Regions from separate parts of the Homo sapiens genome. Here region 1 is linked to region 2. Evidence: fine-mapped expression QTL. Tissue or cell type: lung. Region 2 holds a variant in brackets; the other region holds the start of a gene. All regions are shown on one strand. Distances are from middle to middle.

Region 1 (10,163 bases), 36 kb after region 2:
TAATCCAATGAGTTGTTTCAGTGTTGGGCAGTATTTCATTAAGCAGAACAGAGTCACATGCATGTAGAGGGGCAGAGAGGTGATAAGTGTCTATTATATGACCCAACACAGCCTCAACTGGTTCCCAAGAGGAAGTTCTCTACGTGTCTTCAAAAAGAGGCAAGGATGTGCTGCCATAAAGATAGGTATATCCTCTGCCTCTATAAAAGCTTTACCGTGCTTTACCATCTTTCAAGAAGCAACTCCAATGGGCCCTCCTCTACAAAGTCTTCCCTAACCCTCAAATCTTCACAGTGCCTGCCTGCTCTCTCTTCTTCCTTTTAATTCCCAAAGTACTTATGCATCTCTTATGGTAGTTTGAATCGGTATGATAGCTAGCCATACAATGTCCTCTCTTCCATACCAGGATGTAAGCTGCATCAGAGGCATGTTCTGTGTCTTTACACGTCCTGCTGTCACCAGCACCAGAAAAGAGATGCTCAAAACACAGTCTTCACACAAATCCTTATACAAATCTTTTAATAAGAAGTAGAAGTTCAATAAATATTCATTAAATTAATAAATGAATGAGCACACTAATTAAATAATTAATTAATTTCATGCAACATCTTACCTGGCTACAGCAATTAACCCTACTCGTCAATGCGCGGTAAATGAAGGAAGGATATGTATCTGATGGGGCACAGTGGTGGGTGAATGAAGAAAAAAAAATCAGCTACTCCAGGTGCCTAGCATGCATCAGAAATTGTGACTGTTCCCCAAATGTTCAACAGACACCACCTTCAAACAGGACATTGTTAGATAATGACACTTTCTGATGTCCTTTGATGTAGAGCACATTAAAAATATTATCAGAGGGAAAATCTTTCTGTTCAAAATCCCCCAACCTCTTCAACTGTGTATTTAGTTTTCATCAATTAAATTATTATATCATTTCAATGGGTGACTTTTTATATACACTGGAAAGGTACTCATAAGAAAATAGCTTCCAAATTGGCAATTTTTAAAAGCAAAGCAACTGGTTAGGTGAGGAATGCATAAACAACCCCAAAAGCGGCACTGAATACTTTTCTTTGGCTGTATACGACTGAAAAACTGCCAAGTTCATTTCGATAAGCCTTTGTTAAAAACAATAAACATGCCTGAGCTTGCAAACTATGCTGTTTTGAAGAAAAAGCAATTGAGAGAATTAGAAAATGCTTAAAACTGGAATGTCTAATAGTCTATGAATATGGAGGAAAGTGGGGGACAAAATGTAAAGTGAGACAAAATAACAACAGAACACCATCTTCATAAATAAATAAAAAGCAACATCTTATAAACTAATTTAATTAGTCTCCAATACTAACATGGTACCACTAACACTCTTAAGAAAACAAATCATCCCGTGCTTCAAGTTTAGTCACCAAGGTGATCTCCCTGCAATAAAGGAAATGTAATTTCATTGACTCCAAATGAACATATATTAAATAACCAAATGTGGGAACTGCAATTCACTTACAGTAAAATGTCAGCTCATAAAAGTCAAAGTAACTTCACCTGAATTTGTTTTTTTGTTGTTGTTGTTGTCGTTTTTAGTTTTTTTTTTTTCCATGATTATAAGATTCTCAGAATTGCAGGATTGGAAGGAAGATAGTTTGGATCACTTATGTTTATTTTCCTGCTTAGGTAAAACTGAAATTCTCTTGTACCTGCCTAAGAAATCCTGGAAAAATTCTAGTGAATAAATTGCAACTTGAGCTCTATAGGATCAAAGTTCTTTGTTTTGTTCATTGACATATCCCAAATGCCCAGAACAGCACTAGGCATACAGTAGGCACTCAATAAATATCTGCTCAATTGAACTAAATTGAAAAATATGCAGTGCAATGCAATGTTAAATAAGTCACTTTGAAACTCCTTTCTTAGCTTTGTTTTGGTCATAGTATTAATCACAATAAACAAACAGTCCTCATATAAAACACTTCAACACTATAATTCATGTTTTTACTTCTGATCGATCATTACCATAGAGGGTGCTGAGAATCAGAAAAGACTCCAAGGAAAGATGGGGGTAGAGTTACTCCCATCTATTTGGACTAATTTTCTTCTTCTGGGCATTCACCTGAGAAGTATCTGTATATCCATAATATAAAAATAATTTAAAATATTACTTAAAATTAAAGGTTTGCACCTTTAAAAATTGTGCCACAAAAGCAATTTGATTAAATCAACCTCTCATCTATTTCAGAATCCCATCAGTTAAAAAAAAAAAACATAAAAAATAAGAACAGGAAAATGATGTGATTAGGTGATGCTAGTCATATTATTTTTGCTCAAAATGCCTAGAGGCAATATGCCTTGGAAAACTGAGTTAGGTGGGAATGAGAAGATCTGGATTCTAGTGTTGATTCCATCACCAGTTAACAGTATGAATTCAGCCAATCCTTGCCAATCTGGATCTGAGCTTCCTGGGCTGTAACGTGAAGAGTTTGAATTTAGTAGATGGTCTCCAAAGCCTTTCAGTTTCAAAGTTTCTCTAAACCCTGTAATTATAAGTGACTAAATCCAGTTCACCTAATTACTACCACTACTCTTTTACATCCTTCATTTCTTCAGCAAACATCCGGTCACCTTGGGGGCGCAGGGGGTGGAGGATGTCAAACACCATTAGCCACAGTTTGGCACGACATTTATGGAGGGGGAGCGACAAACAATGCAAGGGCAGCTAGCTGATGATTTTAACTGTTAGCGAGCTTACACCTGTGGAGCGAATGTGTTTCTGAATTTGAAAGGCCGGAAGATTTTCCCCCTGGGCTAAGCTGGTGACGCCGCGGGAGTGCCTAGCTCTGAGCAAAGAACCAGGTAGGATGAACTAATTAGAGGCTCTTCAAAAGGAGAGTGTTTAACCAGTTTCCTGGCAGGACTCACCTGACTAGACATTTTTAAAAATTATGGCCAGGCACGGTGGCTCACGCCTGTAATCCCATCACTTTGGGAGGCTAAAGCGGGCAGATCGCTTGAGCCCAGGAGCTCGAGAGCAAACCGGCCAATATGTCGAAATCCTGTATCTGCAAAAAAAAAAAAAAAAAAAAAAAAAAATCCAAAAATTAGCCGGGCGTGGTGGCGCGCACCTTTAGTCCCAGCTACTCCAGATGCTGGGGAGGGAGGATCGTTGGAGCCGGGGAGGCGGAGGTTGCAATGAGCTGAGATCGCGCCACTGCACTCCAGCCTGGGCGACAGAGCGAGACCTTGTCTCTAAATAAATAAATAGTATAAGAGGTTTAGAATGCTGATGTGTGAAAACGGAAGACTAACCAAATAGCCCCAGGACTTACTGAAATTGTGCTTCAAAATTTTGTTACGAACGCTTTTCCGAGTCCACAATACAGGTATCACTGGTTTATTTGTGGACAAGAAGCAACTGAGAAATTGAGTTCAATCCACTGAAAGCCGGTGTGTTTTTAATATAGCACACACGGGAAATAAATATTATTGTCTGAGGTGGGGGACGGGGAGAGATTTTTAAAATGTACTATAAACATAAAATCCAGAAGAAAGATGGTCTCTATTCCACCGAGAAGTCTGCATTTGAAAACCACAAGAGATGGAGATCAAAGCCGCTCGTTCTCCAGCCACCTGCCCAAAAACTCGGCCGCAGCGCAGACCCAACCCAGACAGGGCAAGTGAGCACGTGTCTCCCTCCCAACCCAAGCTGCGCGCCGACGCACCCAAGTTAGGGTCCCAGGCTCCCGGCGCGGGATGGGCGCTAGGGCAGCGGAGAATGGAGGGTCCCCGTCCTCCTCCAGCTCCAACGACAGCGCCAGCGCCCCGCCGTCCCGCCGCCCTTCCTTGAAGGATGCCCGTGTCACCTGAGCCACCGCGCCCTCTGCACAACCGTGTCAGGGAGAGGGAAGAGGGGGAGCCGAGGAAGCTTCTTGGCCAGGGCGCTGGGGATCCGGGAGCGGGGGCCGCCGGCGAGACTGAGCCCGGGACAGCCCAGAGCTCCAGCGCTCCAGCGCTCTGCAGCCCGCCCAGAGCGCGCAGACCACCCCCATGCCCCGCCCGCCCTCCTGCCACACCCGCCCCCAGCCCGGCCCCGCCGCCTCCTCACCTCGCCGGGACCACTGCAGCCCTGGCGGTAGCGCGCGGACATGCCCCCGGGGCGCACCCGCCGAGCCGCGTCCCTGCGCAGTGGCCCCTTCCCGGGCCCCAGGCTGCGCGATCCGCGCTTCGGTGGGGCGGGGAGCGGACTGGGCGGAGGCGCCGGCGAGGCTGGGGCCGGGGGCCTAGCTGGCAACGCCGGGAGAGGGAAGCGTAGCGCGGAAAATCCCAGTGCTCGGCCTTCGAAATGCACCGGCTCATTCAGCCCCGCCAGCTCCGCCGGGGACTCTGCCTGGCCGGCAAAGAGGATTTAGCGCGGGGATCCGCTCTAAGTACTGTGGCTTGGCTAGGGGCGAGGGGCGCAGCGGAGGAGGGACGTCTCGCGGTTATGTAATGCACCGGCTTTCTGTGTCCCCAGCCAAACCGCTCTAGGACTGCCGGACCCTCCCCGGGAAGAGCCATGACCCCTGACCTCGGCAAGCCGAGGGGAGCTCGGTGTTCCCAAAAAGAACTTTTCCCCTCAGGGTCAAAGAGCAAGATCTCGAGAAAAAATACAAGGCCTCCTTTAGGTGTATCTGGCAGGGATCCGGACCCTGCTAGCCAATCCTTCCCATTTCACAGCACAGGAAACTGAAGCTCCAGAATGCTAGTGAAAAGCGTTATCTCTTGGAGTCAAAAGGACCTGGGTTCAACGCATCTGAAAATCTCATAACCTTGGGCAATTTAACTCTCTGAGCCTCACTTTTGCTTGTAAAACAAAGGATGATAGCGCCCACTTCATGTTGTTGCTGCGAGTATGAAATGAGTGAGGTGTAGGCGCCCGGTACATAATACAATTCCCCAAACGTTGACTCAAAGCCTGAAAAGGGAGCTGCCAGGACGTACCCCACGTAGGACAGGTTCCAGGCGAACTTTCTGTAAAGTCCTCTCCTTGTCAGAAGCAAGGCCTCTGAACTGACAAGGTCTGGTTCCAATATCTTGGAGCCTACGTCCTCACTTCTTCAAGAGTGGCCCGTAGACCAACAGCGAGGTCATCACCTGGGTGCTTGTTAAAAATGCGGAATCTCAGGCCCAACCGCGGATCAGAATCTGCATTTTTTGCAAGATTCCCTGGTGATTTCGCTGTATGTCAAAATTTCAAAATGAATTAGGCTTTTTGGAATTATTATTATTATTATTTTTGAGAAGCAGTCTCGCTCTGTCGCCCAGGCTGGAGTGCAGTGGTGCGATTTTGGCTCACTGCAACCTCCGCCTCCCTAGTTCAAACGATTCTCCTGCCTCAGCTTCCGGAGTAGCTGGGATTACGGGCGCGTGCCACCACGCCCAGCTAATTTTTTGTATCTTTGGTAGAGACGGGATTTCACCATGTTGGCCAGGCTGATCTCGAACTCCTGACCTCATGATCTGCCCGACAAAGAGTTACTGATGAACAGTAGGGAGCATTTGCCACGCAGCAAGGCACCGTAGGTATGTTTTTTTTTTTTTTTTTTTTGGGAAGGAGTCTCGTTTTGTTTGTTTTCTAAAGAAGGGATTTCACTATGTCGCTAAGGCTAGAGTGCTGTGGTGCGATCATAGCTCATTGCAGTCTCGAACTCCTAGGCTCAAGGGATCCTCCTGCCTCAGCCTCCCCAAGCACTGGGATTACAGGCTTGAGCCACTGTGCAAGCCAGGGGTTTTTTTAAATAGTCTAGTATAGTCCTTTCTCATTTTACCCTCTGGCTATTTTTAGTCATCCCCCTCCTCTCAGTTTCCTGCCCTTTAACTATAAATCTGAATTTAAGTCCTATTTTCACTTGCAAAAAACCCTAGGTTAGATTTAAGTGATGATTAGTGAATAAATGTTCAAAACTCACAAAAGAAAGAACAAATACAGCTTGTAAAAGAATTCATTAGCATTGAAAATGAACCTGTAAATGTAGAGGCTGCCATGAGTGAGCCCTGACCTCTCAGCCGTGAAGGTCTTTAGGTTAAAGGCTTGAATACCTTTGAGTTTCAGAAAAATGCTTCTTTCAGTTAAACATTGCTTTGGGTGGCAAATAAGTCTCACTTTCCATTTAAATAATGTAGGACAACAGTTTTTAAAGTTTTGGAGACTAGGACACCGCACAAGGCTTCCTTTCGTCTAAGTCACCACTTACAGGGGGCTCTAGCAAAGACCAAAGCTAATACTGTGTTTATTCTATTCAATGCTGTGTCACTGATGTTGTTGTTTCATTAGAAGTTCAGATTTTGTGTGTCTGATTCTATCTCTGGCAGGATGATTTTCATCCTTTACGAGTTCAGTAACTGTGGGTTGATGATGGTGATGGTGAGTGCAATGCGTATAGGCAGTGCCGGATACAGACGGGTCACTTCTGTGTGCCTACCCCTTTGGGGTTCCACGCTCAAGACCTGACATAGCTGCTGACAGGCAGCATGGAAGTGGAGAAAGGGAGATGCACAAAGCAAAACAATCTCCTTTCACTGAGGCTGGAGGATTGGGGGTGGAGAATGTTGGACTGCTATCGCTGTGCAGAAGAAAAGCAAAGCAAAGGAACCCTAGAATCCAACCTAGGAGGAAAGGGAAGGAGCAACATTTCTTCCAAATAGCACTGTCCAACAGAATTTTCTACAGTGATGGAAATGTGCTATGTTTGCACAGTCCCAACACGGCTATAAAATATGGCTATTTACATTTTAGTTAATTAATTATAATCGTAATTAAAATTGAGGTTTCTTGTGTGTGTTTTGCTTTTTTCTTTTTTACTACTAGTCTGTTGCACTAATCACCTTTCAAGTGCTTCACTCCAAGATGTGGCTAATGTCTACCATACTGGATAGCACTCAAAACGTTTTCTTCATCACAGAAAGTTCTACTGGACAGTGACGCTTAGAGGCCAGGATTTTGGTAAAGAAATGAGCCCAGATACCCAGCTTTTCCAAGTCATAGTCAGAACTTCATCTGTCTAAAAGCAAGTAATAGAATGAAAATTAAACCTACATCGAGGCTTTGTGATAATCAAAATGAGTTAATCTATAGAATGTATTTAATTCAATGCCTTGCATATTATACATGTGTAAAAAATATTAATCCTTATTAGTATTAATAGTCTTTTACCTTAAAAATATTGGGGAATGACAAAGATTTTTTTCCTTGGCCAAACTTTAGTCAGGCTCCTGAACTTTCTCCTAAGACCATGTGTGTATTTCCTTGTAAATTCCAGTTTATCAAAGAACCCGGCAAAATCAGTTTGGCAATAACGTCCCTTCCCATTGACAACTGATCACCCAAGGGTTCCTCATCCTCCACTGTCCTCCAGGTGATATCTAATCACCTTGGCCTGTCTTTAGTAAGAATCCTGTTAGGTCGATTTAACTAGAGTCCCATATCCTGTTTCTTGGCTATAAATTCCGATTTTCCTCTGCTGTATTCATAGTGGAGCCCCATCTCTCTACCCTACTGCAAGTCTTCGTTGTAGTGGTCCCTGTATCTGTCTCAATGGTCCTGAATAGTCTTCTTTACCATGCTGTAACAAGTGACATTGAATATTTTTTTTCTTTAATAGGGACATGGCATTAATGGTACATCATTATTAGTTAAGTAACCTTTCGCTGATGTGGTCAGCTGATCTGGTACCTCCACATGCATTAATAGTTGTGTTCTAACTTTCTCCCTTCCTCTTCTTCCCTACTCAGAATTGAGTACTATTTGTACTTTTCTGGCCTGGAGGCACAGAATATTTTGTCAAATCCCTACCATTTGTAGCCAATAAATAACACGTGTGTTAACTAAAATCCTATTGCACCATGGTTCAGTGGAATTAATTTTCAGATAGGATTCTGAGAAGCCTGACACCTTAGGGTACATCCATTATGAAAAGAATTGTTTGTTCCTGTTATTTGGTCAAACAAGAATGTGTGGACTCAGTACAGAAAAAAAGGGAACATTGGCTACAGATAAGTAATATTTGGGGTGTCCAGGTCAAGATAGAAGCTACTGGAAGGTTGGGGGTTGAGGATGAAACCTTAAGGCTTTTGCCTAAATAGAATTTGAAATTTTGTTCTCATGACTAATTAAGATTTTAGGACTAAATACAAACAGCATAAATAAGATGCAAGTATTTTACGTAGTCAGCTGTACAGATTAGGGCAATACATGGACAAGGAAATAGTGAAATTCTTCCTTAGACACCAAGAAACAAATTTTTCTTTCTTTCTTTCTTTCTTTCTTTCTTTCTTTCTTTCTTTCTTTCTTTCTTTTTTCTTTTTTTCTTTCTTTCATTACTTCCTTCTTTCTCTTTCTTTCTTCTTTCTTTCTTTCTCTCTTTCTTTCTTTCTTTTCTCTCACCCTTCCTTCCTTCTTTCCTTCCTTCCTTCCTTTCTTTTCTCTGGCTCTCTCTTTTTTCTTCCTTTCCTTCTTTCTTTGCCTCTTTTTCTTTCTTTCTTTCTTCTTTTGTTGCTTCTGAGACAGAGCCTCACTCTGTCACCCAGGTTGGAGTGCAGTGGCATCGTCACAGTTCACTGCAGCCTTGATTACCTAGGTTCAAGAGATCCTCCCACCTCAGCCTCCCAAGTAGCTGGGACTACAGCCACCCACCACCATGCCTGGCTAGTTTTTGTATTTTTTGTAGGGACAGAGTTTTGCCATGTTGCCCAGGCTGGTCTCAAACTTGTGGGCTCAAGCGATCCTCCCGCCTTGGCCTCCCAAAGTGCTGGGACCACAGCCGTGAGCCACCATGCCCAGCCTAGAGTCCACCTTCTTTATCATCTTTTTTTGTTCCTCTTTCACCAGTCCACTCTTTTCTATGAGCACTTTCTTAGACTTTAGCCCCTATTTCCACTGTCCTTTCTTAATGTATATCTCCATCCCAGCCTCATGACTGTAGCTAATACCTGCTGTCAACGGCAGTGCGTTTCCAGTTCTGACCTCCCTCTGAACTCCAATTCTTGTTGCCAGATAGCCAGTGAATATTTTCACTTGCATTCTCCCTACACCATCACTTGGAGATTTTAAAATATCAGGAACTCAAGTCATCACTACAATCTGCTCTTAGATCCCAACAACTCTCTTCTCCGATGTCACTTAGTCTCTGGAGCTAACATTCTCTCATTTACTATGACTCAAAGCTATGTCATCATTTTAACCCATTTATCTTTCTGGAGTCATGGTATAACTGAAAGGCATTGAATTTGAAATCAGAAAACCGAAGTAAAAAATCTCATTTCTACCACTTCTTACCAAGACAAACTAAGCAAATTTCTTTTTTTTTTTTCCCTTTTTTTTTTTGACAAGGAGTCTCACTCTATTGCCCAGGCTGGAGTGCAGTTGTACAATCTCGGCTCAATTTAAGCTCTGCCTCCTGGGTTCATGACATTCTCCTGCCTCAGCCTCCTGAGTAGCTGGGACTATAGGTGCCCACCACCACGCCAGGCTAATTTTTTTTTTTGTATTTTTAGTAGAGAGGGGGTTTCACTGTGTTAGCCAGGATGGTCTCGATCTCCTGACCTCGTGATCCGCCCGCCTCGGCCTCCCAAAGTGCTGGGATTACAGGCGTGAGCCACCACGCCTGGCTGCAAATTTCTTAACATCCCACCTCTCGAGCCTCAGATTTCTCATCTATAAAATAAAATCACCAGTACTATTCAAAAAACATGGATTGAGGATGGGTATGGTGGCTCATGCCTGTAATCCAACATTTTGGGAGGCTAAGACCAGAGGATCACTTGAGGCCAGGAGTTCTAGACCAGCCTAGGCAACATACTGAGACCCCGTCTCTACAAAAAAATTTTAAAAATTAGCTAGACATGGTGGTGAGCACCTGTAACCCCAGCTACTTGGGAGGCTGAGGTAGGAGGATCTCTTGAGCACAGGAGTTCGAGGCTGTTATCGTGTTACAGCACTCCAGCTTGGGCGACAGAACTAGACCCAGTCTCTAAAAATAGAAAATAACAAATAAAGGGTTGAGCAGCTACATATCCCAGTTTCTGTGCTAATTAGGTTAGACCCTCAAGGTCTGCGCTACTGATATTTTAGGCCTGACAATTCTTTGTTGTGGGGCTCCCCTGTGCATTGTAGAACATTTAGCAGCATCTTTTGTGTT
Region 2 (10,163 bases):
CTATTTTATAATTAAGTGTAGAATATCTCATAATGTATTGAATACAGTACACTGTAGAGTACAGTACCAGTTGTTTACCATCATGATCGTGGGGCTGACAGAGCTGTGGCTTGCTGCCTCTGACCAGCATCATGAGAAAGTTGTCTTACTACATATCACTAGCTCAAAAAAAGATCAAAAATCAAAATGTGAAAAACAGTTTCTACTGAATGTGTATTTCTTTGGCACCATTGTAAAGCCAAAAATTTGTAAGTTGAACCAGAGCTGCTCATTCTACATGCAACTGGCCAATCCACAAATCCTTCCTTCTAATCAGCTTCTTAATGTCTCATTCTGAAATAAATGAACAACCAAAGATCATCAAATAGTTAAGAAATTACCATATAATTAGGAAATTATTAACATAACTAATAATTATTATAACAATTAACATAAGAAGTGGGATGGGGGCTTTAGGAAGAGAAAGAAATAAATTCAGAGGAAACATGGACAATTCAGGGCATGAAAGAACATACAAGGACATGAAAGAAAAATTCAAAGAAAAAAACTACAGTAAATATCTTCAGAGAGGTCAAGAAAACATAATGCATAAATAAAACAAGAAGAGGAGGCTATAAAGAAAGAAACATTTGGAAACTAAAAAAGAATGCTTGGAATTAAAATATAATTGTGGAAATTGAAAATTTAATGGAAGGATCAGAAGAAGAACTATCCCATAAAGTAAACAAGAACACAAAGATGTAGACTATTAGAAGGAACAGGAAAACTAGTGAATTAGTTCAGAAGAGTTAATATTCAATTAATAGGAGTCCCAGAAACTAAGAAAACAAGGGGAAATAGATGATGAAAGAAATGCTATAAAAACATTTCCCACATTTGAGCGTCCAATGAAATTACTGAAAAAACTCAGAGCCCTCAATCTTGCACCATTCACAAAAGTTGATTTCAGGTGTATTATACAACTGCATATGAAAAGGCAAAATAATTAAGCTTTAAGGAGCTAACATCCTCATGATTTGGAGGTATGGAAAGAATTCTAAAACAGGGTTCAAAGAACTCCAATTATAAAGGAGAAGAACACTTTCACATTTGACTACCTTAAAATTAATAATTTCAAAAGACGTTATTAAGACAATAAAAAAGCAAGACAGAGAGTGGAAGAATATATCTGCAACATGTATAACCAACATAGGACTCCTATCAAGAATGTAAAAGGAACTCCTATTAAAAAGACACTCCAATAGAAAAAGGACTTTGACAGGCAATCCACACAAAAGGAAACCCAATGGCCAATGAACACATGAAAAGATGCTCATTTTTAATCAGAGAAATACAGTTTTAAAACACAATGAGAAAAGTGTGAACCTGAATGTAAAGTATAGGCTTTAGTTAATAATAAAGTATCATTATTCGTTCATCAGTTGTAATATGTGTACAACACCAAGTCAAGATGTTAATGACAGGAAAAACCAGAGAGTGGGATATGGGGGCAGACACAGAGTATACGGGAACTCTGTACTTTCTGTTTGTAAACTTAAAACTGCTCTAAGAAATAAAGTCTATTAATTAAACACATATACACACATGAGATATCACTACAAACACATCAGATTGATTTAAAAAGCAAGTTTCTTTTGGTTTTTATTTATTCTCAAAAAATACAGGTAGAAACAAAGAAATTCAGAGGTTAACGTATACTATTTATACAAACAAAAATGTATATGTTTTAAAACTGAACTAGTGTGATTATATATTTTTTGGACCAAATTGCTGGGAACTCAAAGACCAGGTCTTTTCAAATGAAAAATAAAAGCACAGTGGTACAAAAGGATAACTGGAAAGCACAGAGGAAGAATTCTACATGGTGTGGGGGAAACAGCACTGTATTAGGGCCTCTGGAACTCAAATCTCCCTAAACCTACATAGCAGGTGAGAGGCAGAACAGAATTAAACTCAAGTCTCCTGACTTCCAATCTAGCATACATCCTCATCATGCTATTTCTATCCTCTGTGCAGTTACTGATTAAAGAATTAATAGGGGTAGAGATCAGAAAGAGGAAAAAAAAACCCAACATGATTTCATTAAGGCCAAGTCGATCTTCATTAAAGAGGATTCTTTCTAATAAGATATAAACCAACATTTCCTACTGAGGTCTCAGAGCTATATTTTATGTATGTATGTTACTATGTAATTATACCTCCAATATCTTAAATCATAAGGGCACACAAACTACATGAGATAAAGTTAGAAGTAGGTATAATTATTTTATCTACGTCTGTACTATTTGAAAACTTAACAAGAAACAATTCTTATCTTTATAACTAGTAAAAATAAAGATAGTAGGGGCCAGGCGCGGTGGCTCATACCTGTAATCCCAACACTTTAGAAGGCCAAGGCAGGCAGAGCCCACAAGTTCAAGACTAGCCTGGGCAACATGGCGAAACCCAAACTCTACTAAAAATACAAAAATCTAGCCAAGTGTAGTGGTGCGTGCCTGTAGTCCCAGCTACTCGGAGGTGGGTAGGGTAGGGGTGGTAGAGGGTGGGGGTGAGGTGGGAAGATGGCTTGAGCCCAGAAGGTCAAGGCTGTGGTGAGCCCCGATCATGCCACTGCACTCCAGCCTGGTTAACAAAAAGAGACTGTGTTGAAAGAGAAGAGAAGAGAAGGAAACATTTCTAGTGCAATTGATTGAGATTAATTACATTAACAATGATTCCCTGTTTATGTACAATTGGCTGAAATATAGATACAAAGGGAATGTGTTCCAAAAATTATATGAACAAATGAAGTTGAAAAACAACAAATGGTTGACCTCATTTTTATCAAGTATGTAAAATATTTACAAAACACCTGGAATATTATATTTTAAAATGTTAAGAAATAGAAAGGGCAGTCATGATCAGAGAGTTTTTGCAGCTCCGACTCGGGCAGACAGAACAGCTTGAGGAGACTCGCATTATGAATTTTTGTTCCAGAATGACTGCAGGAATAAATCAGGAAACCCGAGAGGACCCACAGACCCTCTGAAGGAGGTGGATTGCTCCTGCAGGACCTGGGAGACACCCCAAATACTGTGGTGGTATCCATGTCTGAGAGACCCACAGACGCTCCACATCATAGGCCTCTGTGCAGACAACCCCCTGTACCAGCCCGGAGCCTGGCAGACTTGCTGGGTGGCTAGATCCAAAAGAGAGATAACAATCACTACAGCTTGGCTCTCAGGAAGCCACATCTATAGGAAAAGGGGAGAGTACTACATCAACGGAACACCCCATGGGGCAAAAGAATGTGAACAGCCTTCAGCCCTAGATCTTCCCTCTGACAGAGCCTACCCAAATGAGAAGGAACCAGAAAACCAACTCTGGTAATATGACAAAACAAGGCTCTTTAACATCCCCCAAAAAATCACACTAGCTTGCCAGCAATGGATCCAAACCAAGAAGAAATCCCCGATTTACCTGGAAAATAATTCAGAAGGTTAGTTATTAAGCTAATCAGGGAGGCACCAGAGAAAGACAAAGCCCAATTTAAGGAAATCAAAAAAAGCGATATCAATGAAATAAATATTTTTATTTATTAAAATCAATCAAGCTGGGCACGGTGGCTCTTGCCTGTAATCCTGGCCCTTTGGCAGGCCGAGATGGGTGGATCACCTGAGGTCAGGAGTTCAAGACCAGCCTGACCAACATGGAGAACGCTCGTCTCTACTAAAAATACAAAATTAGCTGGGTGTGGTGGTGTGTGCCTGTAATCCCAGCTACTCGGGAGGCTGAGGCAGGAGAATCACTTGAACCTGGGAGGTGGAGGTTACGGTGAGCCCAGATCCTGCAAATACAAGGAAATTAAATAATCTGCTCCTGAATGATCATCAGGTCAAAATGAAATCAAGATAGAAATTAAAAAGTTATTTGAACTGAATGACAATAGTGACACAACCTATCAAAACCTCTGGGATACAGCAAAGTCAGTGCTAAGAGGAAAGTTCATAGCCCTAAATGCCTACATCAAAAAGTCTAAAAGAGCACAAACAGACAATCTAAGGTCACACCTCAAGGAACTAGAGAAACAAGAACAAACCAAACCCAAACCCAGCAGAAGAAAGGAAATAACCAAGATCAGAGCAGAACTAAATGAAATTGAAACAAAAAAAATACGAAAGATAAATAAAACAAAAGGATGGTTCTCTGAAAAGATAAATGAAATTGTTAGACCATTACTAAGATTAACCAAGAAAAGAAGAGAGAAAATCCAAATAAGCTCGATAAGAAACAAAATGGGAAATATTACAACTGACACTACAGAAATACAAAAGATCATTCAAGGCTATTATGAATACCTTTATGGGCATAAACTAGAAAACCTAGAGGAGATGGATAAATTCCTGGAAAGATACAACCTCCTAGCTCAAAGCAGGAAGAATTAGAAACCCACCAATAACAAGCAGCAAGATTGAAATGGTAATTTTAAAAATACCAACAAAAAAAAGTCCAGGACCAGAGGGATTCACAGCAGGATTCTACCATACATTCAAAGAAGAATTGGTACCAATCCTGTTGACACTATTCCACAAGATAGAGAAATAGGGAACCCTCCCTAAATCATTCTATGAAGCCAGTATCACCCTAATACTAAAACCAGGAAAGGACATAACAAAAAAAGAAAACTACAGGCTAATATCCCTGATGAATATAGATGCTAAAAGCCTTAACAAAATACTAGCTAACTGAATCCAACAACATATCAAAAAGATAATCCACCATGATCAAGTGGTTTTCATAGCAGGAGTGTGAATGTAGGGATGGTTTAACATATGCAAGCCAATAAATGTGATACACCGCATAAACAGAATTAAAAACAAAAATCACATGGTCATATCAATAGATGAAAAAAAAGCATTCGACAAAATCCGGCATCCTTTTATGATTAAAATCCTCAGCAAAATCGGCATACAAGGGACATTCCTCAATGTAATAAAATCCATCTATGACAAACCCACAGCCAACATTATACTAAGTGGGGAAAAGTTGAAAGCATTCCTGCTGAGAACTGGAACAAGGATGTCCACTCTCACCACTCCTCTTCAACATAGTACTGGAAGTCCTAGCCAGAGAAATCAGACAAGAAAAAGAAATAAAGCACATCCAAATCAGTGAAGAAGAAGTCAAACTGTCACTGTTTGCTGATGATATGATTGTTTACCTCGAAAACCCTAAAGACTCCTTCAGAAAGCTCCTAGAACTGATAAAAGAACTCAGCAAAGTTTCCAGACACAAAACTAATGTACACAAATCAGTAGCTCTTCTGTACACCAACAGCTACCAAGCTGATAATCAAATCAAGAACTCAACCCCTTTTACAATAGCTGCAAAAACAAAAAACAAAAAAAACAAAACCTTAGGAATATACCTAACCAAGGAGGTGAAAGACCACTACAAGGAAAACTACAAAACACTGCTCAGAGAAATCATAGATGACACAAAGAAATGGAAACACATCCCATG[C/A]TCATGGATGGGTAGAATCAATATTGTGATAATGACCATACTGCCAAAAGCAATCTACAAATTCAATGCAATGCCCATCAAAATACCACCATTATTCTTCACAGAATTAGAAAAATAATTCTAAGCTTCATATGAAATCAAAAAACAGTCCACATAGCCAAAGCAAGACTAAGCAAAAAGAACAAATCTGGAGGCATCACATTATCCAATTTCAAACTATACCATAAGGCCATAGTTACCAAAACAGCATGGTACTAGTATAAAAGCAGGTACTAGTATAGATCAACAGAACAGAATAGAGAACCCAGAAATAAACTCAAATACTTACAGCCAACTGATCTTTGACAAAGCAAACAAAAACATAAAGTGGGGAAAGGTCAACATGGCAAAACCCCATCTATACTAAAAATACAAAAATTAGCTGAGTGTGGCAGTGCATGCCTGTAGTCCCAGCTACTCAGGAGGCTGAGGCATGAGAATCACTCGAACCCAGGAGATGAAGGTTGCAGTGAGCCAAGATTACACCAGTACACTCCAGCCCGGGCGACAGAGCAAGACTTCATCTCAAAAATAATAATAATAATAAATTAGGCTGTTGTATTTTCTTCCTAGCATATTTATCACTATTTGAAGTTGTCTCATTTGCTCATTTGTTTATTATTTGTCTTCACTACTAAAGTGTAAGCTCCATGCAGGAGGGACACTTGCCTATGTTATTTCATGGCTGGATTCCCAGTACCTAGAACATGCCTAACATATATTTTAAAAATTCCCCAATAAATACCTATACCTGTCAAAACTGGAAAACGAATTGTCTCATGAATTGAAGACAATTTGATCCTTACTGTGTTGCTTTTAAGTTATCTAGTTTGGCTGCTGACACAGCCCAGATTGAAAACTGTCACTGTCTCAGTTAGGGAGGATGTAGGGTAGTATACAGCACAATGACCATTTCATGCTGGAATTCAGGCAAAAGTGATGCCCGGCCGGGTGCGGTGGCTCACACCTATAATCCCAGCACTTTGTGAAGCCAAGGTGGGCAGATCATGAGGTCAGGAGTTCGAGACCAGCCTGTCCAACATGGTGAAACCCCGTCTCTACTAAAAATAAAAAAAATTAGCCAGGCATGGTGGTGGAAGCCTATAATCCCAGCTACTTGGGAGGCTGAGGCAGAAGAATTGCTTGAACCCAGGAGGCAGAGGTTGCAGTGAGCCAAGATCGTGCCATTGCAGCCCGGGCAACAGTGCAAGACTCCATCTCAAAAAAACAAAAAACAAAAAAACAAAAAAGTGATGCCCACAGAAACTCCTGATACAACTGAGAACTAGATCTTGCATGCATTCACCTACTTATGGTAAAGCTTCTGAGCAGAACTCAGCAGCTTGCCCAGGAGTTTGCAGCATTTCAGAGCCATGCACTGGACAGCTATCAAAACTGTGTCATGTGCCTTGAGCCTTGAGGACTATAGAAGCAAATAAACATCAGTCATCTTGGCTGCACATGTGTCGGACACTGCTAAAGTCAACACCCCTTCCATAAGGAGTGTGCATTTCAGTTTCCAGCTGCCAAATCATATTGGTTGTCAGAGATTGAAGCCAACATGATTCATAAATGTTAATTTGGCAGAGGATCAGGAATTCCCCAACTTCATGTCAACTAGGCTTCCATCTGTCCAAGGAAGCCAACAGTCTGCTTTCTCCTATCTCTTAATAAAAGGCTGAGAAGATGAGCAATGGTGATCAGCAAAGCTTGTAGGAAACATGTGCGCTATCTACAATCAAAACTGCAATCTATGATCAGGATCAGCGGGTTCCTATTTGGTAATAAGTACCTTGTCAAAACAGACAAGCACTTAGTTCATATCTCTCCAGTAAATGTTCTCAAAAGCAGCCCCAAGTCACTAGAAACAATAGGATGAGAGAGAACAAGGCAATATTCTCTTTGCATAACAAATCTTAGTAAATTGTAAACACATCAGAGTCACTTATTCCTCACATAATTGACTCCTACCTTTTCTTTTTCACGTTATTTTTCTTTTACATTAAATATGCCTTACTAAAGTGGTGGGTCCTTAATTAGCATCCTCATGTAAACATAGGCCTTGTTTTATTTGAAAAAGATTAAAAAGGTGGTGACTCACTTTAATAGGAAAACCCACAAACAATGAATGCAATGCCCTTTAATCCATAGTTGCTGTTCCAATCCCACGTAGAATTATAAAAGGTCCCCATAAAATCCCATTAACCTGCCCAAGACCTCTCTCTTAATAGCTCTCTGCCTTTTCCATGCAGATGTACAGCATGATTGAAGTAGATGAAATATGAAGTGATTTCACACTGTGGGGTTAGAGAAAGAAGGCGAAGTCCAGTAAGGGCATGGAGCATATGAATTTCTAGATGTGCCCAAATAAAGAAGAGATGTGGACAGGTAAGTCAGAAGTAGTAGCCTGAAAAGACCATGGGGCCAGGTGAGTCAAGAAGGGTGGGTGTTTTCAGAGTCGCTGGAGAAGGCAAGTCCACAATAAGACTGAGAAGAGACTGGAAAGAAAGATGCTTGTGGTGGAGTCCGCAATTGTTCCCATACAATTTGGGCCACAGAGGCCACTGTAGCCAGCTGGGGCCACAGCAACAGGAAGGAGTGGGAGGTCTGAGCAGAGGCTGTGGAGGAAGACAAGTCTATCACCAGAGGCTGGAAGTGAAGGAGGAAGTCGAGAGCAAGCCAAAACCCCAGGGTATCAAATGCTTCTCATTTGAGAAGTCTGCAAGAAATCAGCACAAGGAAGACATGTTGAGAGGAAATAAACAGCAATGTCTTGTTCAGTTACAAAATAATTAAGAAATGGAATTTTACTCTTGTGCCTCCCCAATACACAATTTTCTCAGCTTCAGCTCCCATCTCCATGAGGCCTCAAAATTAGTCATCAGATTTTACCACTCTTTCCCATATCTACACAAAATAGTTCAAGTTCAAACAGCTCTGAAAGTCTCTTTTCCGTTGCTTCAAATTCTTGGTCCTGAAACTAAGCAGCCAGAATCAGCCTGTCAAAACAAAACAAAAAAAGCTCCCCAAAAGGTCACTGATCATTGCTTAAAACAGTCAATCTCATGTAAAGAGTCCATTAACTAGTTGGAAAGAGGCTCTTAACTAATGCCTTTCCTTATTACCTGTTCCCTGGTTCATCAAGTTCTCTAACCCTAAAACACAAACATACTTTCCAACCCACCCTTCATCTGGCCCATAATCAAACACAGTAAGTGAAAGAAAAAATATATATATTATTGTACCCTGGACAACCCTTATTTTCATAAAAGTAGTAACTGGCTCCATGAATAGATTTTCCGCTTTTTCCAAGTTGGTACATACGGAACCATTATTGCTTTTGATGTTGACATAAATACTCACTATAAGGCCTAAAAGTATTCAGAAAATTACAGAATATACAGTGTTACAGACTAGGAAGAAAGTACTCTCCCAGGCTAGTTGTAATTAACAAAGATGACCAGCCAAAACCTTGGTGAGTGAACAAACCCAAAAAGGAGATTTATTTTATGCTAAAAACCAAGATGGGGGAGGAAGGTGGATGAGAGAAGCAGAAAGACATATGCTGGGGCCTGATTACAATGTTTCTAGAGTCTAATCCACTGCCAACAAGCCCTGGTTCTCTGGTTCTGCTTCACTGGGCAGAGGAACATGCAGCCCCGAGCACCAGAGCATGATCGGAGGGACCCAGGGTACAGAGTGTGCCAGGGAGCATAAGTCTCAAGGCAAGAAGGATGAAGACCCAGGTGAAGGCTGAGCAGACAGAGCAAATGGGGGTTGCCATCAACCTCTGAATTGATACAGCTTGATTCTGAGTGTCAAGCATTTTTAATTATACATGTTATACATAATTGATGCAGAAAAAGGAGAAAATGGAGCAAAAAGACAATAAAAATCATCCACATCTGCCACCCAAATAGGCACTACTTTTATTTGGAATACTTTGAATAATTATTTTATATACTTATAATGTATGTAAATAGGAGATTGAGACCATCCTGGCTAACATGGTGAAACCCCATCTCTACTAAAAATACAAAAAATTAGCCTGGCGTGGTGGCAACATCTGTAGTCCCAGCTACTCGGGAGGCTGAGGCAGGAGAATCTCTTAAACCTGGGAGGTGGAGGTTGCAGTGAGCCGAGATCATGCCACTGCACTCCTGCACTCCAACCTGGGTGACAGAGTGAGACTCCATCTCAAAAAACAAAAAAACAAAAAAAAACAAGAATTCCAGCAAGATGGCTGAATAGGAACAGCTCTGGTCTGCAGCTCCCAGCGAGACTGATGCAGAAGATGGGTGATTTCTGCATTTCCAACTGAGGTACCTGGTTCATCTCACTGGGACTGATTGGACAGTGGGTGCAGCCCACAGAGGGTGAGCCGAAGCAGAGTGGGGTGCTGCCTCACCCAGGAAGCTCAACGGGTCAGGGGATTTCCCTTTCCCAGCCAAGGGAAGCCATGAGAGACTGTACCAGAAGGAACAGTACACTCCTCCCCAGATACTGCACTTTTCCCATGGTCTTCGCAACCGGAAGACCAGGAGATTCCCTCTGGTGCCTGGCTCAGCAGGTTCCACGCCCACAGAGCCTAGCAAACTAAGATCCATTGGCTTGAAATTCTC

Evidence for each region. PIP is the estimated chance that this variant, and not a neighbour inherited with it, causes the effect.
Region 1: SLC16A12 starts here. The variant in region 2 is fine-mapped to the expression of SLC16A12 in lung (TOPMed, PIP 0.96).

What each region holds. Positions count from the first base shown.
Region 1 is chr10:89,531,591-89,541,753 of GRCh38, forward strand. It overlaps SLC16A12 (solute carrier family 16 member 12), which reads right to left and starts at 4,004. Exons shown (of 8, transcript NM_213606.4): 1 at 3,852-4,004; 2 at 2,911-3,050. RefSeq lists an enhancer at 2,271-3,170.
Region 2 is chr10:89,495,683-89,505,845 of GRCh38, forward strand. All of the region lies in intron 2 of SLC16A12 (solute carrier family 16 member 12), which reads right to left. Among named protein-coding and RNA genes, the nearest start is that of SLC16A12, 35 kb to the right of the region's middle. The variant C/A (reference allele first, on the strand shown) is at 5,503.